Homo sapiens: one gene and its partners. The protein of the gene in region 4 purifies or fractionates together with the protein of the main gene of each other region. This does not show direct contact. Each region holds a gene or a part of one and is shown on either strand. Other genes may lie near its edges.

What was found.
Region 1: the proteins of GGH (region 4) and TTC13 purify together in Homo sapiens (affinity purification with mass spectrometry; one large-scale study listed by BioGRID and IntAct). This does not show direct contact.
Region 2: the proteins of GGH (region 4) and EDEM3 purify together in Homo sapiens (affinity purification with mass spectrometry; one large-scale study listed by BioGRID and IntAct). This does not show direct contact.
Region 3: the proteins of GGH (region 4) and CLSTN1 purify together in Homo sapiens (affinity purification with mass spectrometry; one large-scale study listed by BioGRID and IntAct). This does not show direct contact.
Region 5: the proteins of GGH (region 4) and TAPBP purify together in Homo sapiens (affinity purification with mass spectrometry; one large-scale study listed by BioGRID and IntAct). This does not show direct contact.
Region 6: the proteins of GGH (region 4) and MEGF8 purify together in Homo sapiens (affinity purification with mass spectrometry; one large-scale study listed by BioGRID and IntAct). This does not show direct contact.
Region 7: the proteins of GGH (region 4) and CHST14 purify together in Homo sapiens (affinity purification with mass spectrometry; one large-scale study listed by BioGRID and IntAct). This does not show direct contact.

What each region holds. Positions count from the first base shown.
Region 1 is NC_000001.11:230,922,967-230,926,983, forward strand, and holds part of TTC13 (tetratricopeptide repeat protein 13 isoform a precursor), read right to left. Parts: intron 2,682-4,017; coding exon 2,551-2,681; intron 2,008-2,550; coding exon 1,875-2,007; intron 968-1,874; coding exon 875-967; intron 1-874.
Region 2 is NC_000001.11:184,748,180-184,752,196, forward strand, and holds part of EDEM3 (ER degradation-enhancing alpha-mannosidase-like protein 3 isoform 2 precursor), read right to left. Parts: intron 1,414-4,017; coding exon 1,368-1,413; intron 1-1,367. UniProt on the Homo sapiens protein: Involved in endoplasmic reticulum-associated degradation (ERAD). Accelerates the glycoprotein ERAD by proteasomes, by catalyzing mannose trimming from Man8GlcNAc2 to Man7GlcNAc2 in the N-glycans.
Region 3 is NC_000001.11:9,733,390-9,737,406, forward strand, and holds part of CLSTN1 (calsyntenin-1 isoform 1 precursor), read right to left. Parts: intron 2,654-4,017; coding exon 2,496-2,653; intron 2,227-2,495; coding exon 2,078-2,226; intron 1,786-2,077; coding exon 1,559-1,785; intron 754-1,558; coding exon 583-753; intron 158-582; coding exon 12-157; intron 1-11. UniProt on the Homo sapiens protein: Postsynaptic adhesion molecule that binds to presynaptic neurexins to mediate both excitatory and inhibitory synapse formation.
Region 4 is NC_000008.11:63,028,692-63,032,708, reverse strand, and holds part of GGH (gamma-glutamyl hydrolase isoform 1 precursor), read left to right. Parts: intron 1-2,491; coding exon 2,492-2,542; intron 2,543-4,017. UniProt on the Homo sapiens protein: Hydrolyzes the polyglutamate sidechains of pteroylpolyglutamates. Progressively removes gamma-glutamyl residues from pteroylpoly-gamma-glutamate to yield pteroyl-alpha-glutamate (folic acid) and free glutamate.
Region 5 is NC_000006.12:33,307,062-33,311,078, reverse strand, and holds part of TAPBP (tapasin isoform 1 precursor), read left to right. Parts: intron 1-4,017. UniProt on the Homo sapiens protein: Involved in the association of MHC class I with transporter associated with antigen processing (TAP) and in the assembly of MHC class I with peptide (peptide loading).
Region 6 is NC_000019.10:42,370,334-42,374,350, forward strand, and holds part of MEGF8 (multiple epidermal growth factor-like domains protein 8 isoform 1 precursor), read left to right. Parts: coding exon 1-26; intron 27-367; coding exon 368-498; intron 499-1,016; coding exon 1,017-1,149; intron 1,150-4,017. UniProt on the Homo sapiens protein: Acts as a negative regulator of hedgehog signaling.
Region 7 is NC_000015.10:40,469,302-40,473,985, reverse strand, and holds CHST14 (carbohydrate sulfotransferase 14), read right to left. Parts: upstream 3,003-4,684; 5' UTR 2,773-3,002; coding exon 1,642-2,772; 3' UTR 828-1,641; downstream 1-827. UniProt on the Homo sapiens protein: Catalyzes the transfer of sulfate to position 4 of the N-acetylgalactosamine (GalNAc) residue of dermatan sulfate. Plays a pivotal role in the formation of 4-0-sulfated IdoA blocks in dermatan sulfate.

The DNA of each region.
Region 1 (4,017 bases), on a different chromosome or scaffold from region 4:
TAGGAATATACAAGTCACAAGGTGAAAAGAAATTTGTTTTCTAGAAATTAAAAAAATAAATATACATACAAATTATATTTCCATTAAAACCCAAACTTAAAGGTGTATAGAAAAATATTTTCTTAATTCAGCTTCCTGGAACTAGAAGCATTTTAGAGGTGACACAACTACCATATCTATACATTTTATCTAAAATTAAATTCACTAAAAGATGGGCTGATAATATAGGTCCCCAAGAAACTGATATCCTTTAATATTTGTTCACCATTTATTTAGAAGGCAGCTAGGCACATAAAGAAAGAGTGAAGAAGTGAGCATTTCACCCATGTCCCCAACTAGCAGAGCCTCTGGACAAAACAGAAGTTTTCCAGCCAACCTGACTTGCCCTCCCCAGATGGCAGCTTAGTTACCAGATAGTGTTATTTATCTAAGCCCTTTGTGTGTTGGGGTGGAATGGGGAGCCGCCCACCGTGAGAGACTCCACCACGAGAGACTTGTCAAATAATTTATTTGAGCCATGTACTATCAAAAGAATATTATGGTTACTGTAATGTTCTCCATCTAATAATTTTCTATATTTTAAGACTCCTTAAAGACTGACGCCCTAGGAAAACATCTGCAATCTACCCTTCGGTTGTGCTCTACACCAGACAGAAGGGCCTGGGGAAGGAGTATGGCATGCGCTATGTTTCTTTCTGCAGCTGGGCTAGAGGAAAGGAATGCAGGCAGGACTCCACAGGTGCAGAGTCAATCAGTATGTTCCCTGGTCAAAAAGTCACCAGGAAAGGAGCAATGGGTCACTCCTGGTCTCCATGGCCTGTGTCTTGAGAATAAACTCCTAGGAAAAGAAGAAAGATGCACAAAAGGTTCGTACCTGATTAAATTAATGTGGTTGTTAAAACCTCTGCTAAGACTTCGTGCTGGCATTTGATCTAACCACAGCACGGGCTGGTCTGGGTCAGCAATCCTATAAAACAGAGACCTTTATAAAACCAGAAGTGTTCAGAAGCATTCCAAATAAAACATGTAGAAGTGTTTGCAAAGGTGGGGATAAAGCAACAGCTAGTCCATCATATCTAAAAACGTGATGTCCATACCTACAAATTCCAAACAGATGTTCCAGCTGGACCAGGCGAAAAGCCAGGTAAAGGTAAAGGTTTAGGAGCAGAGGACAGTTTTTGTCACGCAAATGAATATCAAAGGTTACTCTAAACTAGCTAGTTGCCAGGCACACCATTATCTGTAAAGGGACTGGTCCAGCGAAGTTCATTCAGAGGTACCACAGGTAATGGATCTGTTCTTTCAAAGAGACTGTTTCTAAAATGCTTCATGTAAATAGGTGATTGAAAATGTGACAACAATCAATTCGTTTTTTTTGTTTTTTGAGATGGAGTCTCGCTGTGTCGCCCAGGCTGGAGTGCAGTGGCGCGATCTCGGCTCACTGCAAGCTCCGCCTCCTGGGTTCACGCCATTCTCCTGCCTCAGCCTCCGGAGTAGCTGCGACTACAGGCGCGCACCACCACGCCCAGCTAATTTTTTGTATTTTTAGCAGAGACGGGGTTTCACCGTGTTAGCCAGAATGGTCTCGATCTCCTGACTTGGTGATCCGCCCGCCTCGGCCTCCCAAAGTGCTGGGATTACAGGCGTGAGCCACTGCGCCCAGCCAATCAATTCCTATTTTGAAAATATTAGTTAAGTGTATGTCAAATAATAAAGATGCCAGCAATTTCTAACAAACTTTAGAGAGGAAAACCTAACTTGGAAGGCCTGGTGTTAGCAAGCAAAACAGGGTTCATAGCCTGTTAGCTAAAACAGACTGACGTTATTTGACAATGATAAGACTTATAGTTTATTTTCACTGAGATGTTAGTTACCTTCTCCATTTAACTGCAATGTCAAACATGTCTCTCCACTGCATCAACCGTGTCTTCCCATTCATTCGAACTTTCGAGTTGGTCCATGTACGCTGCACGGCTTGCATGACCTCCAATGCGGCCAAACCCATAGCTACGAGAAAGGAATATCGAGAAGAGTTAGTACACTTTAGAGGGACTGAGTTCCACCTACTTTACAGAGTCTCAGTGATAACTCAAGAGTTAACACATAAAGGGTCAGAAGTATTGGTGATATAACAAGACCCAAGGCACGTTTCAGTCATGATGGTCCTACTAAAATTAAAACCCATCAGAGTTAACTGAAGACAACTCAAGTTGTCTGCTCCCAACTCTGCCTCCTACTGAAACAAGTGGAGGTTTGCATTCTTCCTCACTCCTATAGTAAGGAAATAGCTCCCTGGATCAGCTGTCTGATTTTGAGTAAGGACTTAAGACCTATATTCTAGTTTATACTACAGCAATAGCAAAAAAGCCAAGGATGGAAGCAGTCTTCTTTCAGAATTCAGTTTGAATGATTCTACACATTTCTATTCTGATCACATGGAGAATTTGAATAAGCACAATAAATACTAATTTATTAAAATGCACAACATGGCTTAACCACCCTTCCTCTTATGCCAGGAATATTTTCATTTTCAGGTAGTTTCCAGAATACCTCTGTGTATTCTCTTGTTTGGCAGGAAACCAGGTGTTTCATATTGCATCAGGGATCCCAAACGATCAGCCACACAAATCAGCTCCTGTACTTCAGGCTTATAACTCTCAAAATTCTGATGTAACACATCTCTGGAAGAAACATCATGTACATGATAAGGACTTTTACAACAGACATTTGGTAATCCAATTCCACCTGAGAAGCAGTCACTTCCTCCACGGGAAAACTAATGAAGCAGTCTACGACCACATAATCCTTACTTCAGTCCTTTGCACCCAACCATACCTCAGCTTAAAAGGGAATCTCTATGATGGCATGTGCATAATTGCCATCACATGCTGGTTAGTAACAGTGAAAACTATGATAACTAGTATGCAATTCAGAAGACACCTCTTTCCATTATTTGCTTTGTAAACTTCTCCAGAATACATTCCTGAATGGACTGCCTTTTTCAACAAGCAACCAAACCTCTGCCCTTTGTCCACTCCTCAACCCTGCCCAAGTTGTATTAGAACAAGTATACTTGGAATGATACATTGAAATACTACTGTTTAGCTGCCAACCTGCTTGATGCTTTTATAACAAAGACTGAAACTCTAAATTACAGGTTGTTCTGGGGATCTCCAAGACCATCCTTACTCAGGCTCAGAAATTGGCTGAAAGGGCTCAGTGGACTTAGCACATAATGATACTCACAATAGTGAGTATCATTTTTTATTTTGTGTCCTTTACAAAACAAAACCGGCAGAGGGAAGAGGCACATTGGGAGAAGTCTGGAGGAAACCAGTCACAAGCTTCCAAGGGTCCTCTCCCAAGGAAGTCATATATGACACATTAAATTCTCCCAGCGATTAGTTGCGAACACGTGTAAAATGCTGCCAACCAGGAAAGCTCATTAAAGACTCAGTGGCCAGGGTTACAGACAACTTATGCCTGGCAAGTTCCCAAATTCCAGATACCCAGAAGGAAAGCAAGTGTTGAATAGAAATCACACTGTTTGAACACACAGTTTAGGCACAGGGAACCTCTCCTATTAGTTTTGGGAGTGGTAGGAATCCCCTCGAAATCCAAGTTCCCAGATACCAACCAAGGGTCACTCTTGCAAGCAGTCCTTTCTAAGGACAGCAGTCATAGACCTGCTACTATGTTAACTCTTTTGTGCATCGAAATATTTCTCAAAAAAGGAGTAGTTCGAGAACATGCATAATCTCCATGAGCAATCAATTTTCTTTTTATTATTTTTGCTCATTTAATAGTTGAGACACATAGAAAACACGAAGTCAAATTACCCAGTTTAAGAACTAGAGCAATTCATGCAGTTGTATCTACTTGTATGCTGCTTTCCTATCCCATCCTCCCATCTCTTGAAATGTGTGCTCCTGACTCACGTACCTTTTTAAAAACTAGGTTTGTTACATACATGTATATATACAATATACTCTACAGTTTGGCTTATGAGCTTTGGGA
Region 2 (4,017 bases), on a different chromosome or scaffold from region 4:
CTCACACCTGTAATCCCAACACTTTGGGAGGCAGAGGTGGGCAGATCACTTGAAGTCAGAAGTTCGAGACCAGCCTGGCCAACATGGTGAAACCCCATCTCTACCAAAAATACAAAAATTAGCCAGGCATGGTGGCACACACCTGTAATCCCAGCTACTCAGGAGGCTGAGGCAGGAGAATCACTTGAACCTGGGAGGTGGTGGCTGCAGTGAGCTGAGATAGTGCCGCTATACTCCACAGCCTGGGCGACAGAGCACAACTCCGTCTCAAAAAAAAAAACAAAAAACAAAAAACAAAAAAAACATTAAGGGAATGACTGAGGTCTTGAGAAATAAATTTGAAACTGTGTTTTTAATGTTGAAATGTATCCAAAAAAAATCATATCCTAAAAACATTAAGAACTCAAAATGTGCTCTCTCCAAATTTACAATATAAAAGAGAACGAGGACTGTCAAATATAAAACATGTTTTAAAACTAAAAATGCATAAATTACATATATTTAGATGTTCATAGATAACAATGATGTTAGTGTATGAAGATATTTGGTTAATATATGATAAAAAATGGATTCACAGAATCAGTTGAAAAATATTTTAAGCAGAACTAAAGCTAGTCCTCTGCCAAACTTTCCCAACTACATTTTATACGTTGTAATCATAGAAGAAAATCTGCTGACATATTTTAAAATGTAAAAACAAGGTTATAAGGGATAAGTTTCAGGATAATATGCTTAAACTCTTTTCAAATTACAATTTATGTGCAAAATTTTTTTTGAATTCCAGAATTTGCTATTTCATCTACGTTGTTGCACAACAGATCTCCAGAACTTTTCATCTTGTAAAACTGAAACTGCTATTTAATCTTAAGTGAGCCCTAAAACATTTTTAAATAATATGAATCAGCAAACTAAAAAGCAAAATATATTCAGTGCAGAGTCCATGAGGATACAATTAGGACAGAGGCTAAGTAACAATTTCTCTTTTAAGCAATGGTTTTCTTCAGTGTATAAATATTGTAAACATTTTTTTAAATTAAGAGAATAATCTCCCTTAAGACCAGAGATAACATCTTCATGTATATATCCACAATATCTAGCTATATAAAGCACTCAATGATAATTGTTGATGGCACCCAAGGAAGCTGTTTAAATAATGAAGTTTCATAATCTAATTTCAATTTATTCTTATCTGTTCAATAAACTGGTTCCCTAAAAACCACTACCAGAAAGACTATTTTTGCCCTGTTTTTTAAAAACTTCCTTTTAAAAAATGTAATTGTATTGTAGGTTTCAAAATTCCCAGTTGACTGTGCTCACATAATAATCAACTCACATAAATGGTAGGTAAAGATAAGCTTCCTACTTACCATATAGTTACCATAAGCATGATCAAACATTTCCAGTACTTGATTCCTAATTTTAAAAGAGCAGAAATGGAAAAAAAAAAAAAAAAAGGTAAGTATATTCTATTTATTATCTTTCAAAAAGTTAATTCTTCCTCATAAAAAATATACCAATAAAAACAAAAGAAAAATTTAGGTAGAAAGGGACATAAACAGAATCAGAAACTACAACAGCTAGCAGACAAGCTTTCATGAACTCACCACACAGAGCTGAGCCAAACTTTAATGATTACTAGTAATTTATGTACAATTCATCTTATAATTTTTCCTAAGAAAACTGATGAATGATAGATGCCATCATCAGAGAAGGAAATCTGATGCAGAAAAACAATGACCTCTTAACACAATTATTTAACGTATCTGTCTTGAAGCGGGGGTTTTGCTGGACAGCCCTTTAAAAAAACCATTATTATTGCCATTTATTGCTTCCCCTATATGTTCTACTAAGAGAGAGGTACACAGGTGTGTAGTGACATGAAATAACAACGCTTTATGAAGCCTCTGCCTTTGCACTTACATTGAATAAACCACTAATGCCTAGTTTAAGTACATATTTATTAATGTTTGTCATATTTTCAAAAGATACTTTTTATGATGTGCTCTACTCTAAAAAAACTGTCAAAAATCAAATAAATAGTATTCACTTCCAAAATGAGAAAACTAATGCTCAAAAAGAGAGTTGTGTGTTTTGGCGAATTCTGTTTCACAAAATCTCCGTAACCACTGTTTAAAATGGAGATGTCTGATCACTACACCAGAATTTTACTAAATCAAAACCTGTAAGGTTGCGACTGAGGAAGCAGCCTTTCAATTAAGCACTCTCAAGTTCAGGGACTTGAGGACTACAGGAAAAAGTACAAGTTAATTGTATGACCAGACAAGGCCAAATAATTAGCAAAGGAAAACACAGCTTAACAATTTTTTATTAACTTTTTCTTTTTTTTTTGAGACAGGGTCTCACTCTGTCACACCTAGGCTAGAGTGCAGTGGCACGATCTCAGCTCACTGCAACCTTCACCTCCCAGGTTCAAGCGATTCTCCTGCCTCAGCCTCCCGAGTAGCTGGGATTACAGGCGTCTGCCACCATGCCTGGCTAATTTTTGCATTTTCAGTAGAGACAGGGTTTTACCACGTTGGCCAGGCTGGTCTCGAACTCCTGACCTCATGTGATCCACCCGCCTCAGCCTCCCAAAGTGCTGGGATTACAGGTGTGAGTTACCACGCCCGGCCTATTAACTTTTCTTTTACCAAAGTTCCAATCACTGATGGCAAGAATTGAAAAAAGTGTTAAAGAAATTGCTGACTATATTTTTATTTGCCTCCTGTTATACTGCAATTGTCATTTTTAAAACTATAATCACAGATTATGAAATACTGGTAATAATAGAGCTAGCAAACAGAAAAGACCTCAGTTCCAGATCCTGACTATGAACACCAACAAAATCAAGTACACTCAAACTTGTGAACGAATTAAGTCCTGACAACATATGAATAATAACCACTTAAAAACATTTCATTATTTAAAAAAAGACCTTACCACCACTTTGCTAAAGCACTAATTCTTTGTAAGTTTACATATATATATATGTTTATATATATATAATTTTTATATTTGTGGTTTACAGCTCTAGACTCTTATCCTGTCCTAAGCAGAAAAAAAAAAGTTTAAAATGTCCCTTTCAGGAACTCATATCAATGAATGGAAGATGGAAGTCCTCTTTTTTTTCCTTCCCTGAAATGGAATACGAGATTATTACCAAGAAGTAGAAATTCCTATAATTGGCAATGGTAGTGCCTAGACATGTATATTACAAATGACATAAGCTTTAACTTGCTAACTCAACTTTACAAGCATTCAATTTTCAAGACTGTAAGTAAATCATGATTGCATACAAGGAGAATACACTATTTTCCAATCCTTACATTTATGCAGCATATGATGAGCAAATTTTAGAACACATATTTCAAAGTGGAGCTATTTAATATCATTGCTCTTACACATAGAAGCCTAACAAAGTCACATTTAAATACAGAATGGTATAATAATTACTATACTGAACAGAAAAAAAAATTTCCATAATGTTTTATCTATTCAAAAACTGGATTAAAATGTATTGGAAATCAGACCCAGTTCAAAAATTACACCACTCTTCAGTAATTTCTGTAAGTCGGCTTTTTCTCTTTTTTTGAGACAGAGTTTTGCTCTTGTTGCCCGGGCTGGAGTGCAATGGCACGATCTCTGCTCGCTGCAACCTTCGCCTCCAGGTTCAAGCGATTCTTCCTGCCTCAGCCTCCCGAGTAGCTGGGATTAAGGGCATGCGCCACCACACCTGGCTAATTTTGTGTTTTTAGTAGAGAAGGGGTTTCTCCATGTTGGTCAGGCTGGTCTCGAACTCCCGACCTCAGGTGATTCGCCCGCCTCAGCCTCCCAAAGTGCTGGGATTACAGGCATGAGCCACCATGCCAGGCCAAGTCGGCTTTTTCTAAAGTTACGTCTCCTGCCCACGTGCTATAGAAACTGGATTGTTTTCTACTTCATTTTTTAATGAAAACATAACATTAACAAAATACCCTGTTGCAAAATTTTAAAAACAAAACCAAAAAGCTTATTCCA
Region 3 (4,017 bases), on a different chromosome or scaffold from region 4:
CTTGTACTCACCTCCACCTTAAATTCGTTGCTGATGTAGCGGCCATTCAGCTCTGAGCAGATGAGCTTAAACTTCCGGTCAAGCAAGGACCTGGCATGCCAGTTCCGATAGCGCAGCAGGTGCAAAACCTCCTCGTAGCTGGCCATGGTGTCCACGCCTGCAGGGGTTGAAAGGGGGAAGATTGCCGGGTGGCTTAGGGCAGGAGCATGGGCAGGGCTGCAGCCGTCAGCACAGGCAGGCTCAATTAGACACCCAGGTTAGCTAGGCCAAGGGGTCACACAAGTTGGCTTTCTAGCCATGGGAATAAATGCAATGTGCACAGGGGCATTCTTCCCTCTGTGGGGGACGTGTCATCCCACGCCTCAACCCTCCCCCTTTAGAGAGTAGTGGCTACACATCCGGTACCTGTCCAGGAGACAGGAGTATGCGTGCAGCCAACAATGATCCCAGCGAACGTGCTCCTTCCCCATCTCCCTCTAAGATAACTCAACATTCTCAGATGGCAGGCAGCAGCCAGCCAAGAGCTCTCAAAGTCCCCTCTTGCAGCCTGGCCCACCTGCGTGGCTGCAGCGCTCCCCTTACCTGTGAAGGTCATGCCCAGTTCAGAGCTGCTCACTTCAATGCCCTTCTGCTGCAGGCGGGCCATGTCCACCTCCAGGCTCTCCTGCTCGTGGTTCAGCTCCTCTCCCTCCACCGTGACCTCACAGGTATCCAGGTCGTGCACGATCTCCTCGGACACCAGTGATTCTTGAACTGCAAAAGAGGCCCAACCAGAAATATTAAGTAGGGGCAGTGGGGCCCAGCGTGGCGGGGCACACTGGATGCCCTGCCGGCTCACCCCAAACCTACATGGCTCTCGTAAGGACCAACGACAGAAGCAAGCGAGAGTTGCTTTCAAGAAACGGCTGGGCGCAGTGGCTCACGCCTGTAATCCCAGCACTTTGGGAGGCCAAGACGGGTGGATCACCTGAGGTCAGGAGTTTGAGACCAGCCTGGCCAACAGGGTGAAAGCCCGTCTCTACTAAAAATACAAAAATTAACCGGGCGTTGTGGCAGGTCCCTGTAATCCCAGCTATTCGGGAGGCTGAGGCAGGAGAATCGCTTGAACTCAGGAGGTGGATGCTGCAGTTAGCCAAGATGACACCATTGCACTCCAGCCTGGGCGACAGAGTGAGACTCCATCTCAAAAAAAAAAAAAAAGGGGGGGAGTTTCATGTGTCCTGAGCAAGAATTGTGGGGACATTGTGCCTCCATGGGCTGGCCAGCCTGGCAGGTGCAAGCAGTGTCTCCCGTAAGTGCCCTCAACCCCTCAACCTCAAGCCACATCTCAAAGCCTGGCAGCAACCAGGAAAAGATGTAAGACCCCTCCAGATGGGATTCCAGAGATCACCATGAGCTCCAGCTCACGGGTCAGATTCCAGAAGCACACCCGAGAGAACACCAACGAAAGATTAAAACCTCCCCAAATCCCACAGAGACAAAGAGCCCCGCCAAGTACATGGGGACAATGGGGTTTCCGGCCGAGGCGAGGGAGCCCGCGCCCCACAGAGCACATTACCTGTGGGGTCCTCAGCCCCGTCCCCTTCAGGCTCCACTTCTCTCGTGATGGTGCTGATGATGCGAAGCTCAGGGAAAAGGAACACCCCTTCTGAGCTTTCAAATTCAGAAGCTGCTCGGGCAAAATGGTGGACGCCACTCAGGCTGATCTTGGGCTCCTCGGGCTGTAAAACCATCACGTAGCCATCTACCGGGGGGACCGAAATGCAGGTGGCCTCGTTAAAACACCTGCCAGCAAGAAATGGGGAAGGGTCAGGGCTTTGGGAGCCGATCTTGGAGCCCACCTGTGCAAAGGCACATGGAGGTGGGATACAGAGGCCCCCACTAACACCTGCCGGGGCCACTCCAGGAACACACTTGCAAACAAGATGCGTAAATATCACTCAGCTCTCTGCCCCACACTTTCTGGTTACACACGATGGCTCACCTTTCCTTACAGAAGGGGTTAGGCTGTCTTAAAAACCTAAATATACAAGTGTCATTGGGCAAAACAGGCCGGCTGTTAAAAATCAGGACGTACTTGATTGTGCTGGTGATTTTGAGTCTGCGAATTCCGGGCGTGGGGAACTGCCGGGAGTTCAGGTACGAGATGTGCTGCATGGCCTTATCCAATTCCCCGAGGTCTTCTCCCTCCAAGGTCAATACCAACTGGCTGGGGTGTGCTTGGATCTGAAATCACACCAGCCACAGAGAGGAGAAGAATAAGCCAGTAACCGCAGGAGCTGAAACCACAGATGCCTCCACAAAGGGGACTGGCCTGGGTTCGATTTGAATTGCTGACTTGAAAAAGAAAAGCTCGTTTAAGTCCAGTGAACACAACTCTTTTACCCAACAGTAAACGTATCAATCACAGATTACTCACTCCCTCATCCCACCAGCCTCCGGGGCTGTAGTCTAAGGGGCCCATGAGTGGTGTGCAGTCGAGCGCTCGGTGTTACCTGCACGCCTCTGCCACTGTCTTCGAGGACCTGCAGGTCCAGCCCCTCCTTGCAGGTATACAGACAGTCGATCACCTTCTTATCCGCGAGTTTCCCGGAACGGAGAGTTAAGCCAGCCAGATTGCCTCGGAAAAACTGGGTCATGTGCAGGTCGCCACCTTTGGGTCAGGGGAGAAAAGGCGAAGTCAGGCGTGCAACCCAGCATCGCCCAACTCACTTCTCACTCAACACGGTGTTACCGGTGCTGGCAGCTCAGTGGATGGACATGCGGGTTAGTTCATACCAAGTCCTGTTAGCCTTGCAATCTACATGGAAGCGCAATGAAGAAATTAAACCGTTTATGATCATGCACATGGCCTGGAGAAAGGGAGAGTTGGGGGTGTCTCACCTGAAGCCAAGAGGTCCCCTGAGGGTCCCCACACCTCTGGCCACTACCTGGTAAGGTGGCCTACCCTGTTCTCATCACCAGGGTGCATGGTGACACTTCCTACGCCACCAGCCTCTCCAGCCACTGCCTTCTCAGCTGGCTGGGTTCCACATGGCTGTTTTCTCTACCTGGCACGCCCTGGGGAATGAACCCACACAAGCGAGGCAGGGAGGATAAAAGGGAGGCTTAAAATACTCCCTGCATGGAACGGCCTATTTCAAGGATGCTATGGTGTTAAGTCCCATCCTTCCTGCCTCCTCCTGAGGATTGCTGAGAAGTGCAGATGTTACAACGAAAACCAAAACCCAGAAAATGGCCCTTGACAGATGACAACAAAGAGCCAGAAACAGGTTACACTAAACCTTGTTCTTAAACTGAAAAGGAAAAGGGACAAATTTTCAGCAATGTGTCTCATTCTGGTACAGAAATCAGGCACTGTAAATCATGACTAGGAATTGAGGTTTCTAAGAAACGGCTATTTGCCAGGCATGGTGGCTCACGCCTGTAATCCCAGCGCTTCAGGAGGCCGAGGCGGGTGGATCACCTGAGGTCAGAGTTTGAGACCAGCCTGGCGAACATGGCGAAACCCCGTCTCTACTAAAAATATAAATATTAGCTGGGCATGGTGGTGCATGCCTGTAGTCCCAGCTACTTGGGAGGCTGAAGCAGGAGAATTGCTTGCACCCAGGAGGTGGAGGTTGCAGTGAGCCAAGACCGCGCCACTGCACTCCAGCCCAGACAACAGAGCGGGACTCCATCTCAAAACAAAAAAAAAAGAGAGACGTCTATTTAAAATTTACTGTCAATCAGGACAGAATATCTAGAAACAAGTCTTTTCCTGTCTCGTGGTTCATCCACATGACAGTCACGAGGCGGCCTCCCAAACCCTGCCTGTAAGACTGAAAAAGCAGGGAGCCTCATGCAGTGGGGTCAGGGTCAAACTGGATGGGGGGGGAAGTCCCATGCATGCACTGCCTGAGATGTCATTTGTCCTCACTCCAGCTGGGGTCAGAATGGGCAGAATAAGGGAACTCCATGAAGCAATGGGGAAGCGCAATGCAGGGAAGCAGCTCAGATGGTGTCCAGGACCAAAAT
Region 4 (4,017 bases):
GTGAGTTCATAGACTAGCCTGTGAAGGATTACCTGATGCAAAATAAGACTGGATCATGATGATGTTAGGTTCATTTCTGAATTTTGGATGCTGGGAGTCAACTTCTGTGGTTTAGAAGTGAAAAGGAAGAGATGGGAGACCTGGGAAGCATTCTGAAATAGATGCAGAAATTTGTCTTTGGTTTCCTTCTGCCTTCTTTCTGCCCCTTCTGTCTCAGGCGCTTGGTGCTCTCAGGTTGTCATAAATGCCCAATGTGGGACTAGTGGAAAAGAGAATGTCCTGCTTCCTCAGAGGTAGCATACAGGAGCCCATGGACTGCTGCTTTTGGTTTAAAAACGTGTTTTGTTCACACAGCGTTTTAAAACATGAATCAGGCTGGGCGCGGTGGCTCACGTCTATTATCCCAGCACTTTGGGAGGCTGAGGTGGGAAGATCGCTTAAGTTCATGAGTTTGAGACCAGCTTGGGCAACATGGAAAAACCCCTATCTATAAAAAATTTTTAAAAAATGAGCTGGGAGTGGTGGCGTGCACCTATGGGCCCAGCTACTCAGGAGGCTGAGGTGGGAGGATCACTTGAGCCCAGGAGGTGGAGGTTACAGTGAGCTGAGATGGCGCTACTGCACTCCAGCCTGGGTGACAGAGCCAGACCTTTCTCAAAAAAACCCCAAAGACCACAAATCAAACTTTATAAGAGTCTGAATTTTTGTTTCTTTTGAAGACAGTTATCTAGATTGAGTTTTAAATGGGGCAAACACTCCCCATTGGCAACAATGCCTTACCATCCTTTTCATGCTGCTAAAGCTGTGTGTCATTTGCCATCATCACCAGGCTTAAGCCATTTCGTTACAGTTAAGGAGAGAGTAAACTGTTCCTCATACCTTGTTGAAAGGGACTTTTGTTTCAAAAAATGTCTGACAACATGCAACTAACAGCTGTATTCTCTGCCAGGGCCCCTAGGCACCAGAGTTGTGACATGGCACACTCCTTCCCCTGTGACAATTAGGTCTCTTAATAGAGATAAATGGGGACCAAAACTATAGTCATGGACAGTGTGGGAGCCATTTATTTAGAATTAATGAAATGACTGAAACTAGCTTGCACCGCTAGCTGGCAGGAATCCTTGGAGTGCAGCTGTGTGATCTAAATCCATTTTGGTCCCTGATGGCGATGGTTGCCCATTTTGGTTTAAATATCCATGGGGAGAATTCTGGGTCCTGACTGGCTGGTTCCTTTTTGTTGCCACAATCTGGGGAGATTAGACTGGCAGAATACTGGGTACATGTATATTGATATTTCACCTCCCTATCACTTCCCAAGGCAGGGCTACCTGTCAGTATTTTCTCCACTTAAGAATGGTAAGCACCATTCTGGTATCACCCATTGCTTTGTGGCTCTCGCCAGGAAGAGATTACTATGAACTTGTGAGAGACCTGGACTTGCAAAGCTTGTTTGGACTTAGAGTAGATCCCAGAGTTGTTTGCTGGCAAAACACAGCCTGTGTTCTGGATATCACAGGTGTCTAGTTAATAATGGGTGTGAGGGACTTTACCTCCCCCTAAAACTTCTTTGAGGGCAGAAATGGACTAGTTGACATCTAATCATAAGTCTACTTCTTTTAGGGCAGGTTGAGAGGACAGGTACCATTTATTCTGTCACAGAAACAGAAGGCTGCTAAATGTGGGAGAGTTCTTGCAAGGATTTCACTAACTTGGTGCTCTCTTCCCTTATTGTTGCATTTTATTGAACTTTCGGGAGAGCAGATATCTGTGACTTAGTAAATGTTGTCACCATATGTCACAGATTAAGCCCATCTTTTTTTTCTGGAGAAAGGGAATAAAGTCACCAATAACATGGCGATTGTTAGGAGGCCCTTAAGGGGTGTTTGATCAAGGGTCTTTCAGAGTAATTACCTGGGCAGTTAGGCTGTTCTACAGTCATCTCTCTGTGGTCCTCAGTTCAGACTAGATGTGAACCATCCTGACTTTGAAATGCAGAGTAGTCCCTAGACTGTTGCAACTAGTTTGTTGGGGTGGGATCAGGCAGCGACTTGGCATTTATTTATGCATTTTTTAATCTGCCAGAGCTTCCTGTAGTTAAATAGGCATGATAAATAAAGTTATTTAAAGGAGTCTTTACATAAAACTACTGAATATTCTTACATTTCTTTTTGTAGTTCTTGGTTAGTAGAGAAATTACTGGTGGCCAAATCTCACGGTCTTTACTGTTTTTGCATACTAACACATACTTCACAATATTAAATTGCATTAGATCACAGAAAAACATATTTACTTGTCTGATTAGCAAAACAAGGATAGAATGATGTGGCTTTCAAGTGGTTTGCAAAAATGCCTCTAGAAAAGTAGAGAGGTAATATTGTCTAGTAATTAAAAATTTGTTTTTATTTGGCTTTTTAAAAGTAAATGTGGAGACTTCATTTAGAGGTTTACTTCTAAGTTTCACAAATGTAACAATAACTTTTATTGTTTTCAGGCTGGATCTTACAGAGAAAGACTATGAAATACTTTTCAAATCTATTAATGGGTAAGTTGGCAGCATTGGTTTCATACGGTATATGAGTGGTCTACATATGTCTGCTTTTGTAAAAGAAATCATATAAATATTATACATGTTTCTATGTAACTGTCTTAGAGTGGTATAGTATTAGTGTTCTGAGTTCTTTTATAGGATTTATTTTCTTGGGAGATGCAAAAGTCCTTCAAAAGAGGAAGAGGCAGGTTAGGAAATGTATAATTGTTACATAGTAGACACACATAATTTTTTTAAATGTGTGACTTAATCTTTGTTCTTTTAATGCTTGTCTTAAATGTTTTGAAGCTACCTTGAATGGCGTGGCATACTGCTTGCATATGGGGTTTATAAGTCCAAAGTCTGAGGATGTTGATTTTTTTTTTCAGGTAAATTGGGAAAAAATATTCACCATTACTCTTAATTTTAGGAAAGAAGGCTAATTACAGCAATCAAAAACATTTAATTACCATGTTGGCAGAGATCAGAAAATTTGCTTATACTCTATGGGGCCTGTGAGGAAACAAGTGTGCTCATACTTTATTAGAGGGAATGTAAATCAGGTAGTCTTTTTTGGGGTAATATTGCAATACCTATTGAAATTAGAAACACGTATACCCTTTGACCTGGGAACTTGAGGAGGAATTTTATTTTATAAATATATTCCCACCTTGCATGAAGACTTAGACTCAAATCTATGCATTGTATTAGTAGTATTGTCTGACAGTCACCCCGTAATCCATCAGGTGAGAATTGGTTAAATAAAACAGACTATGTACATTCAATAGAATACTATGCAGGAATTAAAAAATGCGGCTATCTGTAGATGCTGACTTAGATCACCATTGTCCTATGAACAATGTGATAGTGTTATGTGAAAAAGGCAAGGCACGTGATGGTGTGTATAGCATACACCCCGTTTGCTTTTTGTTAAAGGTGGGGGTGAAGAGATATGCATATTTCTACCAAATCAACACAGCAGATTTTAATGGCAGTTGTTTCTGATTGGGAATAGGGTGGAAGTATTTTACTGTAAAATGTTTTTTTAAAAGAGCTTTATTATTTTTACTTCTAAAACCATGTTAATTTATTGTTTCTTTTAAAAAGCTATGTTTAGAAAATTATTTGCCTTCAGTTCAGTTTGGTTCAGTAAATATTTACCATAAAATCAGTTCAATTTAGTAAAACATTTACAATGCCCAGTATGTGCTGTGTGCAAGGTACTTTGGCATGGACAAAGATCATTAAGTCTAGGCTAGAATATAATAGTAGAACCTCAAAAATAGACCTTTTGAAACACTTCATTTTCTTCCCACCCTCTCCCCAGTTGCATTCCTGTTTGGAGAGGAATCTGAATCAAGTAGCAGTGTAGACAGGAATACATACTTTGGGGAGCTAGCCTGTCCAGATGCTCAGTATGTCTTCATGCAAACCAGCAAAAGGAGTCCATTTTCTATCTTCCTCACTCGTTTTCTGCATTGCCACTAATT
Region 5 (4,017 bases), on a different chromosome or scaffold from region 4:
TTCCAAAGTGCTGGGATTACAGGCATGAGCCACCACGCCCGGCCTGCTGTGCTCTTTCTTTTCAAGCATTTCTGCTTGATCAGGGATTTAAGAAAATGAAAGCTGTTGTACTGATGTAAAATTAGAAATGAAATCTCTCCAGGGTCCAAGATCATTCATGATTTTGCTAATATACATTTATACTTGTCTTATCAAATATTTTTAAATGTTTATTGACAAATATGCTTATTTATTTATTTATTTGAGACAGGGTCTCCCTCTGTCGCCCAGGCTGGAGTGCAGTGCAGGCTGGAGAGCAGTGGCATGATCTCAGCTCACTGCAACCTCCACCTCCGTGGCTCAAGTGATCCTCGTGCCTCAGTCTCCTGAGTAGCTGAGACCACAGGCATGTGCCACCATGCCCAGCTAATTTTTGTATTTTTTTTGTGGAGATGGGTTTTTGTCAGGTTGCCCAGGCTGGTCTTGGACTCCTGGGCTCAATTGATCTGCCCACCTTGGCCTCCGAAACTGCTGGGATTACACGTGTGAGCTGCCTGGCCCCAAATATACTTTTTTTTTTTTTTTTTTTTTTTTGAGACAGAGTCTCACCCTGTTGCCCAGGCTGGAGTGCAATGGTGTGATCTCTGCTCATTTCAACTTCTGCCTCCTGAGTTCAAGTAATTCTCCTGTCTCAGCCTCCCAAGTAGCTGAGACTACAGGCGCCCACCACCAGGCCCAGCTAATTTTTGTATTTTTAGTGGAGACAGGGTTTGGTCATGTTAGCCAGGCTGGTCTTGAACTCCTGACCTCAGGTGATCCACCCACCTCAGCCTCCCAAATTGCTGGGATTACAGGCGTGAGCCACCACGCCAGGCCTATACTTTCTTAATATACTTTGTGTGTATAGTGTTTAATTCTCACCATTCTTTTAAAATATTATGGAGTCAGGTGAGGTGACTCACGCCTGTACTTCCAGCACTTTGGGAGGTCTAGGTGGGAGGATCATTTGCACTCAGGAGTTCAAGACCAGCCTGGGCAACATAACCAGACCTTGTCTCTACTAAAAATTAAAAAAATGCTGGGCGCAGTGGCTCATGCCTGTAATCCCAGCACTTTGGGAGGCCGAGGTGGGCAGATCACCTGAGGTCGAAAGTTCAAGACCAGCCTGACCAACATGGAGAAACCCCGTCTGTACTAAAAATACAAAATTAGCCAGGCATGGTGGTGCATGCCTGTAATCCCAGCTACTCGGAAGGCTGAGGCAAGAGAATTGCTTGAACCTGGGAGGCGGAGGTTGCAGTGAGCCAAGATCATGCCACTGCACTCCAGCCTGGGCAACAAGCGTGAAACTGTCTCAAAAAAAAAAAAAAAAAAAAAAAGGTTGGGTGTCGTGGCATGTACCTATGGTCCCAGCTACTCGGGAGGCTGTGTTGGGAGGATTGCACCTTTGATGGGTGACAGAGTGAGACCCTGTCTCCAAAAAAAAAAAAAAAAAAAAAAGAGTTAAACTGTAAAACCTTTAGGTCTTGTTTATTATTTTTTTAAATTTTTTCTTTTAAATAGAGATGGGGTCTTGCTATGTTGCCCAGGCTGGTCTCAAACTGCTGGGTTCAAGTGATCCTCCCACCTCAGCCTCCCAAGGTACTGGGATTACAAGTCTGAGCCACCCTGCCCAGCCAGGTTTTGTTTATTAATTCTATGGATTTTTTTTTTTGAGATCAAGTTTTGCTCTTGTTGCCCAGTCTGGAGGGCAATGGCATGATCTCGGCTCACCACAACCTCCGCCTCCCAGGTTCAAGTGATTCTCCTGCCTCAGCTTCCCAAGCAGCTGTGATTACAGGCGTGTGCCACCATGCCCGGATAATTCTGTATTTTTAGTAGAGACGGGGTTTCTCCAGTCTGGTCTCAAACTCCCAACCTCAGGTGATCCACCGGCCTCGGCCTCCCAAAGTGCTGGGATTACAGGCGTGAGCCACTGTGCCCAGCCTGTGGATCTTTTTTTTTTTTTTTAACAATTCAAAAGTATGTTTCTGGATTTTGACAAACTAAGTGAAATTGCATACTGTTTTTACTCTACTGAACAATTCCATGAAGATGAGAACAGTTTAACCTTATAGGCCTCAGAAGCTAGGATTAAAAAGAACATAAAAATAATTACAAGAAGAAAAAGATTACTTCTACCTGAAGGACCTAGACATTTCTGGGAAGAAACAGCAGTGAAAGTGACCTTCATGTACATGGAGTATTTAGATCAGGGGTCTCCAATCTTTTGGCTTCCCTGAGCCACACTGGGAGAAGAATTGTCTTGGGCCATGCATAAAATATACGAACACTAACGATGGCTGATAAGCTAAAAAAAAAAAATGTGAAAAAATCTCATAATGTTTTAAGAAAGTTTATGAATTTGTGTCGGGCTGTATTCCAAGCCGTCCTTGGCTGCATGTGGTCCCTGGGCTGGAGGTTGGACAAGCTTGATAGATGTTTGGGAGAAAATGGGAAAGACAATGTAAACTGAAGGGACCTCATGACCAAAGCAAAGAGATGACCAATGATGACCACTTCTACTAGGCACAAGAAAGGGGTTCTATGTGGCTGGTTTGTAGGGTGCAGGAGAAGCCTGGAAGGGTGGGTTAGGGGCTGAATGTTCAAATACCTTGAAAGCTGGGCTTTGTTCTGTAGGTGAGAGCGAACCATCAGAAGTTCTTTTGGAGGGCGTGTTATTCTAAAAAGCCTGTTTTTATTATGTACATATTTATTTTTTGAGACGGAGTTTCACTCTTGTCACCCATGCTGGAGTGCAATGGGGTGATCTTGGCTCACTGCAACCTCTGCCTCCTGGGTTCAAGCAATTCTCCTGCCTCAGCCTCCCAAGTTGATGGGATCACAGGCACCCACAACCACGCCCCGCTAATTTTTTTTTTTTTTTTTTTTGTATTTTTAGTAGAGATGGGGTTTCACCATGTTGGCCAGGCTGCTCTCGAACTCCTGACCTCAGGTAATCCACTCGCCTCAGCCTCCCAAAGTGCTGGGATTACATGTGTTAGCCACCATGCCCGGAAAAAGCCTGTTATTTTACTTGATTCTTTTAAAAGATAGGCAAAGGTCAGATCTTTGGACTAGTGAGGAAAATACAGGTTAAATGATTTTTCCAAGTTAACCAGCAAGTCCATGATAGTGATGAAGGTAATGAAAATAGTAACAGCTAACATTTATCAAGTATTTTCTATATGCCAGGCCCTGTTCTAAGCACTTTATATGCATAATCTCACTTATTCCTCTCAACAACCATAGGTTGTAGGTTTTAATATTATCCCTGTATTGCATATGGATAAATATAGGACACAAACCAGTTAAATAATTTGCCCAAGGACACACAGTGTGTAAGAAGCAGAGCTAGAGGCCAGGCGTGGTGGCTCATGCCTGTAATCCCAGCACTTTGGGAGACCAAAGCAGGTGGATCACCTGAGGTCGGGAGTTCAAGACCAGCCTGGGCAACATGGTGAAACCCCATCTCTACCAAAAATACAAAAATTAGCTGGGCACGGTTGTGGACGCCTGTAATCCCAGCTACTCAGGAGGCTGAGGCAGGAGACTCACTTGAACCTGGGAGGCAGAGGTTGCAGTGAGCCAAGATCACACCACTATACTCTAGCCTAGGTGACGAGCAAAACTCTATCTCAAAAAAAAAAAAAAAAAAAAAAAAAAGAAGCAGGGCTAGAAATTGAACCCAGGCCATATAGCTTCAGCCTATGCCTTTATCAGCTGACTTCCTAGGTATTTGGGATTTTTATTTTATTTATTTATTTAGTTTTGAGACGGAGTCTCACTCTGTTGCCCAGGCTGGAGTGTAGTGGCATGATTTCAGCTTACGGCAACCTCTACCTCCCAGGTTCAAGTGATTCTTCTGCCTCAGCCTCCCAAGTAGCTAGGACTACAGGTGCCTGCCCCCACACCTGGCTAATTTTTGTATTTTTAGTAGAGACAGGGTTTTGCCATGTTGGCCAGGCTGGTCTTGAACTCCTGACCTCAGGTAATCCA
Region 6 (4,017 bases), on a different chromosome or scaffold from region 4:
AGAAGTACTCACTGGACCCAGAGGAGGTGAAAGAGAGGGGTCAGATGCCTGGGTCTGAGGGAGGAGGGGCTGGGGAGCTCCTGGGTCTGAGGGAGGAGGGGGCTGGAGACCTGGACCCTTGGGTTGAGGGAGGAGGGGCTGGAGGCCTGGATTCCTGGGTCTGAGAGAGTAGAGGTGGGGGTCTTGAACTCCTGGGTCTGAGGGAAGAGGAGCTGGGGCCTGGACTCCTGGATCTGAGGGAGGAGGGGGTGGGAGCCTGGCCTCCTGGGTCTGAGGGAGGAGTGGGTAGGAGCCTGGACTCCTGGGTCTGAGGGAGGAGGGGGTTGGTCCAGGCCTTTCTATGATCACACTGTCCTTCCTTGGCCAGATTGAAAACTGGGTGACAGAGGGTCCTAGTGAAGACGAGGCCGTGTGCGTGAACTGCCAGAATAACAGCTATGGGGAGAAATGCGAGAGCTGCCTGCAGGGCTACTTCCTCCTGGACGGGAAGTGCACCAAGTAAGAGGAACCGGGGGGGGGGGGGGGGGGGGGGGGGGGGGAGGCCGGGGATCCCACCCTTCTCACTGGGAGTAGCTCTGGAGCCAGGCCCCCTCTTTAGTCCTCCACCCCCAGTCAGGAGAGGATGACATCCCCAGGGAGCGCCCAGGCTGGGGTCAGGGTAGGGAAGGAGCTGGAATGTGATGCCACTCCCTACCTCCAAGGCTAGTGCTGAAGTGCAGTCCACAGAGCGGCCCCATCGAGAACAAGATGGGGCGGCTGAGGGCAGAGGCCTTGGAACAACCTCCCCTTTCCATCTCCTTCTTTCTGAGTGTTCAGTGAGTGCTGGAGTCTGTGCAACTCGGGTTCTAATCCCAATGGTAATTTAACTGCTTTGTGGCCTTGGGCAAACAGCTTGACCTCTGTGAACCTCAGTTTCCTCTTCTGGCCTGTTGCACAGAGTTGAGCTCACATATGGGGTGTCCATCCTGGACCACTGCAGGCCATGGGGGCTCCGTAACCCTCAACTTCTTCCCCAGATGCCAGTGTAATGGCCACGCGGACACATGTAACGAGCAGGATGGGACGGGCTGTCCATGTCAGAATAACACAGAGACGGGCACATGCCAGGGCAGCTCCCCCAGTGACCGTCGAGACTGCTACAAGTACCAGGTGCGGCTGCAGAAGCTAGTGGTGGGCCGAGGGCCCTACACCTTGTGGAGGTCAGGGCTGGGATGAGGTAGCCAGGCTCGGGCAGGACTGACAACATGGTTCCAAATCAGTGGTTTTGGGATCAAGTGCAGCTTGACAGACTGTTCCTGAGCCCCATTCAGTTACAGGCCCTAGGCAGTGATGCTGGGGACCAAGATATGAGCCTCTGGGGGACTCTCAGACTGGTGGGGAGACAGTCTCCATTACAGGTAGTCACAGCTAAAGGTGGCACATGCCAGAAAATCTATCCCATGGTAGCTCAACCGAAAAAAGAAAATGGGCTGGGCATGGTTGCTCATGTCTGTAATCCCAGAACTTTGGGAGGCTGAGGCGGGAGGATCACTTGAGCCCGGGGGTTCAAGACCAGCCTGGGCCATATAGTGCAACCCCATCTCTGAAAAAAAATTTAAAAATTAGCCTGGCATGGTGGTGCACATCTGTGGTCCCAGCTACTTGGGAGGTGGAAGTGGGAGGATTGCTTGAGCCCAGGAGGTCGAGGCTGCAGGACTCTGTCTCAAAACAACAACAACAACAACAACAACAACAACAACAAACACACACACACACACACACACACAACAGAAGAAAAGAAAATGTATTGACTCTTAGAACTGAGGGTCTGGGGTCTGCCTTCAGGACTGGCTATATCCGGGTGCTCACACAATGCCATCAGAAGTCTCTCTGCATCTTGACTCTGCTTTCCTCTGCATTGGCTTCATTTTCAGGCAGATTCTTCCCAGTTGGCAGACCCCCTCTGATGAACTGAGGCTAGCAGAGATCTCATATCATTTAATACCCAGATTCAAATTCCCCTCGAGTGCATTTCCCTTTTTCTTCTGCACAGAGGCTCCTGGAGTGCCTGCACTGGCCACCTGGCTGGCTGCTGTGTTCCAGACTTGCCTCCATGATGTCCCAGGCTCCTTCCTCAGAGGACAACTCCCGCCACCTCCCCGCCACCTTCTCTCTCCAGTCCCAGAGGGAAGAGAAAGTCCCTTGCTCTCAGTCTTCCTTACCCATCTACAGAAACATAATAGCTGCAAACATAATAGCTGCCACCCCAAATGGCAACAGTTTTACAAGCCTTACTGACCCTTAACATTTCTATCCTGGGCCAGAATTTCTGCTTTTTTATTTTTTTTTTAATTTTTAATTTAATTTAATTTTTTTTGGACACAGAGTATTGCTCTGTTGCCCAGGCTGGAGTGCAGTGGTGGGATCTTTGCTCGAGGCAGCCTCCACCTCCTGGGTTCAAGTGATTATCCTGCCTCAGCTTCCTGAGTAGCTGGGACTACAGGCGTGTGCCACCATGCCTGGCTAATTTTCTGTATTTTAGTAGAGATGGGGTTTCACCATGTTGCCCAGGCTAGTCTCAAACTTCTGAGCTCAGGCAATCCACCTGCCTTGGCCCCCCAAAGTGCTGGGATTACAGGCGTGAGCCACCACACCCAGCCCAGAGTTTCTGCTTTCTTGATAAGGGAAAGGCCTATTGGCTTTTACCAGGGAGTCTCAGAGATTAAATCAGACCTCCTCCTCTACCAGGTCTGTTGGCTGCTTAGAAGTAGCAGTTTTTCTTGGTTCCTTTTTTTTTTTGAGACGGAGTCTCACTCTGTCGCCAAGCTGGAGTGCAGTGGCGTGATCTTGGCTCACTGCAACCTCCGCCTCCCAGGTTCAAGCGATTCTCCTGCCTCAGCCCCCCGAGTAGCTGGGACTACAGGCACGTACCACCACCCCCCGCTAATTTTTGTATTTTTAGTAGAGACAGGGTTTCACCATGTTGGCCAGGATGGTCTTGATCTCTTAACCTTGTGATCTGCCCACCTTGGCCTTCCAGAGTGCTGGGATCACAGGCGTGAGCCACCACCCCCGGCCGGTTCTTTTTTTTAATGTATTTATTTTTAAGACAGGGTCTGGCTCTTTCACCCAGGCTAGAGTGCAGTGGTGCAATCTCAGCTCATTGCAACCTCTGCCTCCCTGGTTTCCATCATCCTCCCACCTCAGCCTCCTGAGTAGCTGAGACTACAAGCATGTGCTATCATACCTGGCTAATTTTTTTTTTAGAGATGGGGTTTTAACCATGTTGCCCAGGCTAGTCTTGAACTCCTGAGCTCAAGCAATCCACTCACCTTGGCTTCTCAAAGTGTTGGGATTCTAGGCGTGAGCCACCGTGCCTGGTTGGGCTTTTGGGTTTTTTTTTTTTTTTTTTTTTTTTTGATACAGGGCTTACTCTGTCACCCAGGCTAGAGTATAATGGCGCAATCATAGTTCACTGCAGCCTTGAACTCCTGAGCTCAAGTGATCCTCCTGCCTCAGCCTCCTGAGTAACTGTAACTATAGGCACACACCACCATGCCTGGCTAATTTTAAAAAAATTTTAAAGACGGGGGTCTTACTATGTTGCCCAGACTGGTCTCGAACTCCTGGGCTCAAGCGGCACTCCTGCCTCAGCCTCCTGAAGCACTGGGATTACAGGCATGAGTCACTGCGTCTGTTTTCTCTTGGTTCTAATAGTGATTGCAGTAATAACTAGAATGCCAGGAGCGCCTGCCACAGAGCTGGATGCTGTGCTGTGTAGACAGTGGTGACAGCATAGATATGAAAGGCTTTGCAAGACTGTGCTGGGGCCTCAGTGGGGTACAGACTTAAGAGGAAGACAGATTCAGAGACATTAAATGTCCTAGCTGGGCACAGTGGCTCATGCCAGCACTTTGAGAGGCTGAGGCGGGCAGATCACTTAAGGTCAGGAGTTCGAGACCAGCCTGGCCAACATGGTGAAACCCCTTCTCTACTAAAAATACAAAAATTAGTTGGGTGTGGTGGCGGACACCTGTA
Region 7 (4,684 bases), on a different chromosome or scaffold from region 4:
CCTCTGCTGCTCCAACTGTATTCCTTCCACAACTTTCTCTGGACCTAAGTCAACAAGAGCCTGACCCTCACTCAACCTCCTTGCCTGCCTTCCTTGTAGTGCCAGAAAAAAATCTCCTTGCTCACACAAAAATTTTCTTTTTCATTTGAAAATGGTCCGGGGCCAGGCGTGGTAGCTCACGCCTGTAATCCTAGCACTTTGGAGGGGCCGAGGTGGGCAGATCACCTGAGGTTAGGAGTTCAAAACCAGCCTGGCCAACATGGTGAAACCCCATCTCTACTAAAAATACAAAAATTAGCCAGGTGTGGTGGTGCGTGCCTGTAATCATCCCAGCTACTTGGGAGGCTGAGGCAATCGCTAGAACCCAGGAGGTAGAGGTTGCAGTGAGCCAAGATGGTGCTACTGCACTGCAGCCTGGGTGACAGATCGAGACTTCATCTCAAAAAAAAAAAAAAAAAAAAGAAAGAAAGAAAATGCTCTGGGGGAACTTCTCATTCAACTCTTATTGAATAAGAGGAGGATCCCGTATCTCCTACCCACCTACTTTTTTAGGGAATAATACATGTAGGTATGCTCTGGACGTGAGGCCATTCCTAACTGGGCTTGCCCTTTGGTGACATCCCAGGATCTGAGTCTGTGATCTGGTATAGCCTATTAGAAAGCCCCCAAAGTCTCCATGGAATGGCAACGGCCCATTGGACCAGCCCAACCAAGTTATACCTTACTTTCTCTATCTACAGGCTGCCTCCCCTGACATGGGAAGACAGACATCGAGGAGATCTGCTGGGCCCACAGGAGCTCCAAGGGAAATCACAGAAATGCTCGCCTTATATATAAAACTGCTTTATTAAAAAGTCAGCTATTAGGAAAACAAAGCCCTTACAAGGGTTCTATCAAAAAGTACAAATTTTAAATAAATGCATCAGAAAAATGGCAGCCAGATATACCAGCCACAGTCACAACCTCAAAGGCCTTGTGGGGAAGGAAGGGAGAATTAGGGAGGAGGTTCCGAGAACTCAAGGAAGAGGCTGGGCACAGAGGGTCTTTGGGTGCCTGCAGAGCTGGGTCCTGGAGCTACCAGGCAAGAACCCTGCTTCCGTTTTCCTTTCCTTGGAAAAATGTAAAGAACTGGCAGGTGTAGGAAATTTTGAGACTGGAGCAGAAAGGCACAAAAGTCATTTATAAGGTATGATTGCTCACTCTAGTCCTGAGGCACATGGGGTGGATAAATGGGGGATCAGAGCCACAGGGTCCCTGGCTCTGGTCATGCTTGCCCCTGGCTGGTACCATCTCTGAGTTTGGCCACAGGTTAAATTAAGGTAGACCAAGTGGACTGCATAATCCTGGCAGCCCGGGGTCTGGAGCCAGTCTTTAGATCAGATGTGTTGCTTCATTGGCAAACTGGTGTCTGCCCCCCAAGAGATCCCCCCAATGAGGAGCAGCAGGTCTCCTGCCTAGCCCTGTCCTCTGAGTCACTGTGGGTGCCCACCCTGGACAAGGAACTTCTGAGGGCAGTCTCTGCCATCCAGGATCCTGAGAAGCCCCAAGCCCCAGAGCCAGAGTTTCTCCGAATGACAGGCAGAAGCACAGAAAGCTGGCGTTGAAACCAGTCCCCACCAGCTGCTGGCCCCACACCCATGGTCACTGCTGACACGCCTCCTTGGTGACATTAGGCAGTGGGTAGGCAAAGAGGGAGAAGTCCAGGATATACTTAGGCAGCACATCCTGCAGCAGGGCCCGGGGGGCACTGCACAAGTGGTAATGCAGGCTTTCGGGGCTGGCTGGCCGGTACCAGGCCTGGCGAGCTGGAAATCGGACGTGAGGTGGTGCCCGTACCCACTCCAGCACCTGATTTGCATCAGCCTCCAGCCTCTCATAGGAGCCCACAAAGTCATAGTGCACGGCACAAGGCTGGCACAGGTGGTACACGGGCATCCAATGCTCATTCATGCGCTCAGGGTCCTCATCCACCAGGTATCTCAGGAACTCGGGGAATGTGACATCGTCGCCTGCAGGGCTGGGCCCCGCTCCAGCCCTGTACCGCCTCACTATCTCAGCCCCATAGCGTTGCTGGTACTCTCGGATCTCGCCAAACTTGTTGCGGTAGGCAGAGAGGAGGCGTTCCAAGGGCTCCCGCACAAACAGGAACTTAAAGTAGTGCTGCAGGCGGTAGCGAATCTCCTCAGGCCGCAGGTCGGCCAGGAACACCAGGTCACTGCGGTGGTCCATCTTGAGGCGGACGTCCACGCTGTCCAGGACGCCTGCCAGCACCTTCATCACCCGCTTCCAGTTAGAGCAGGCCACCTTGGGGACGTAGCAGTAGAGGAAGCGGTAACGGTCACTTACGAGGATGTGGCGCAGCAGGGTGCGCCGCTGCCCCACCGGCAAGTCCCAGGGGTCCCGGGGCATGCCTGGCTGTCCGCACACCGCCCGCAGGGTCCTGTTCCGGACGTCCTGCCGCACTTGCAAGTCCGCGTCCCCAGCCCTGAGGGACAGGCCCCCAGGCTTGGGGGCTTTCCCGCGCCAGGCTGTGCCCTCGCGGCCGGGCGGGTGCAGGGGCAGGGGCTTCATCTCGGCCAGGATGCCCCGCTCGATCATGAGCAGCAGCCCGCTGGAGGCCACGATCACCGCAAACATCAGCATGGACGGCAGCAGCAGGGGCGGCCCACCCAGCCCCGCCCGGGCCCTGCCCAGAGGGGCCCGCCTCAGCGCCCGGCCCAGGGGCTCGGCGCCATTTGGGGCCGCCAGCGGGGTCAGCGGGCGGGGGAACATGGTGCTCAAGGGGTGGGGGCCTGCGCGGGCCCGGCCGATCCGAGGGCGGCCTGGAAGGCGGGCTCGGGCTGGGGGCGGGAGGAGGGTCTGGGACCGGGGGTAGTTGGGGAGGGGAGGGCAGGGGACAGCCCTGGCGCGTGTAGGGGTGGCCGGCTCCCGGGCTGCGGCGCCGAAGCGGGCGGCGGGCGGCGGGCGCGGCGAGGGACCCGGGCCGGATGTCCCGCCCGGCCGCTCTCCACCCCCGGCCTCGCAGTGACACAGGCGCGGGGGCGGGCCCACGCCGGGGGCGGGGAGAGGGGCGGGCGCCCCTGCGGGGCGCGGGCTTGGGAGGGCGCACGCGGACCCCTACCCGGAAGAGGGCGCCTGAGTCAGGGCCACCCCTGTCCTCTGGGCTTGGGGACAAAAGCTCCTGAGACCTCGAAGGCAGAAAAGACTCGAGGCTGCTCTCCTGCAGCGTGTGTCCTCAGGGAAGTGGACAAGGGGGATTCGCCACAAACTCAGGCCTGTCCTAGCCCTTCCTCCAGCAACGGGTCTGGAGGCAGGGAGGCGGGCAGCGCTCTCTCCGAGTCCAGACGTGCCGGAGGCTGGTCTTTCCAGCTGGAAGCGGAGCCCTCGGTGTGCTCCCCCTTGCCACCCTTAACTCCCTCCGTCCTGCAGGTCGTGGCCACTCCAGGAAGGAGAAGCAGAACTGTCAGACACTGACCAGTCTCCATGGTGACCCTTGTGTTTAGCAATACCTGGGGACTGACTACAGTGCTTGTCCACTGGGTAATGCTGAAATGTCTGGAAATGGAGTCTCCCCTCCTCTGCCTTCTCCTCATGAGGCAGTGGGATAACTGGGCACTCTGGGGAGGGTCTGACACATTGGTCCATCAGCTGCTGGTGTGGCCAACACACATTTGGAAGGGTGAGGAGCTGGGGGCACAAAACAGCAGGGAAACAGCACGTAGTCTCCTTGCCTGGAGCTAGATGTGTGCTCCATGGCACCAGGCTGGTCACTTGGGCGGACAGCAGACCCGAAGTGCTTTGGATGTCAGCAACCACCATTTCCCACTGGGAACCTGGCTCAGTAGCCAGACTTGGTCCAGCTATGTGCTTGCTGCCTGCAGAGAGCCAGCAAGCCTCTGAAGCAGCAGAGGAATATGATTAGAGCCCAAGTGTACTGAGGACAGCGCCCACTAAGTGTTTTATATTCATTATCTCCTTTAGTTGTTACAGCCACCCTGGCAGGGAGCTAGTGTGGACATTCCCTTTGTACAGCTGAAGTAACAGAGGCTCAGGGAAGATGTGACTCAGTATGGGTGGTTCTGAGTCTAAAACCTAAATTTCTAATCACGGCCCTTCAGAGATTAAAGGAGCATATCATGGAATGGCTAGAAGGGAGGAAGCAGCTGACTCGAGGGCGGACTGTACAGAGCAGGTGATGGAAAATAGAAGATACCAGTGGGAGAATGGAGCTACCAGTGATCAGATGAATTCAGAAGGGTGAGGGGACTTGAGGGATGAGGTGATACTAGAGGGCTCACTGATGACCCCACAATCCCAGCAACAGGAAAAGCACACAGATGAGCCAGGGGAAGGAACGGTAAAGCCTTGCAGCCTTCCAGCTCTCCAGGGCAGGCTCTCCACATCTGATTGCCCCAGTGCATCTGCAGGCTACCACCTGTCCATTTGCTGCACCAGAAGTTTGCGTGAAGGTTCTGCCTTGTCTACACTGCTCCTTGCTTCCAATAATCCTAAAGGTATACATTTCTGGTGATAGGATTTTCTATTAAAATCATATTTTCCAGTAAGTATGTCCTTTAAACCAGGAGAGGAAAAAAAGGCCTTAGACCTTTAAAAATCTTTTGATAATGTGGCCACATGTGCTCCCTTCTGTGTTACAGGGTAGTTTTCTGTGTTAGCAGTCAGG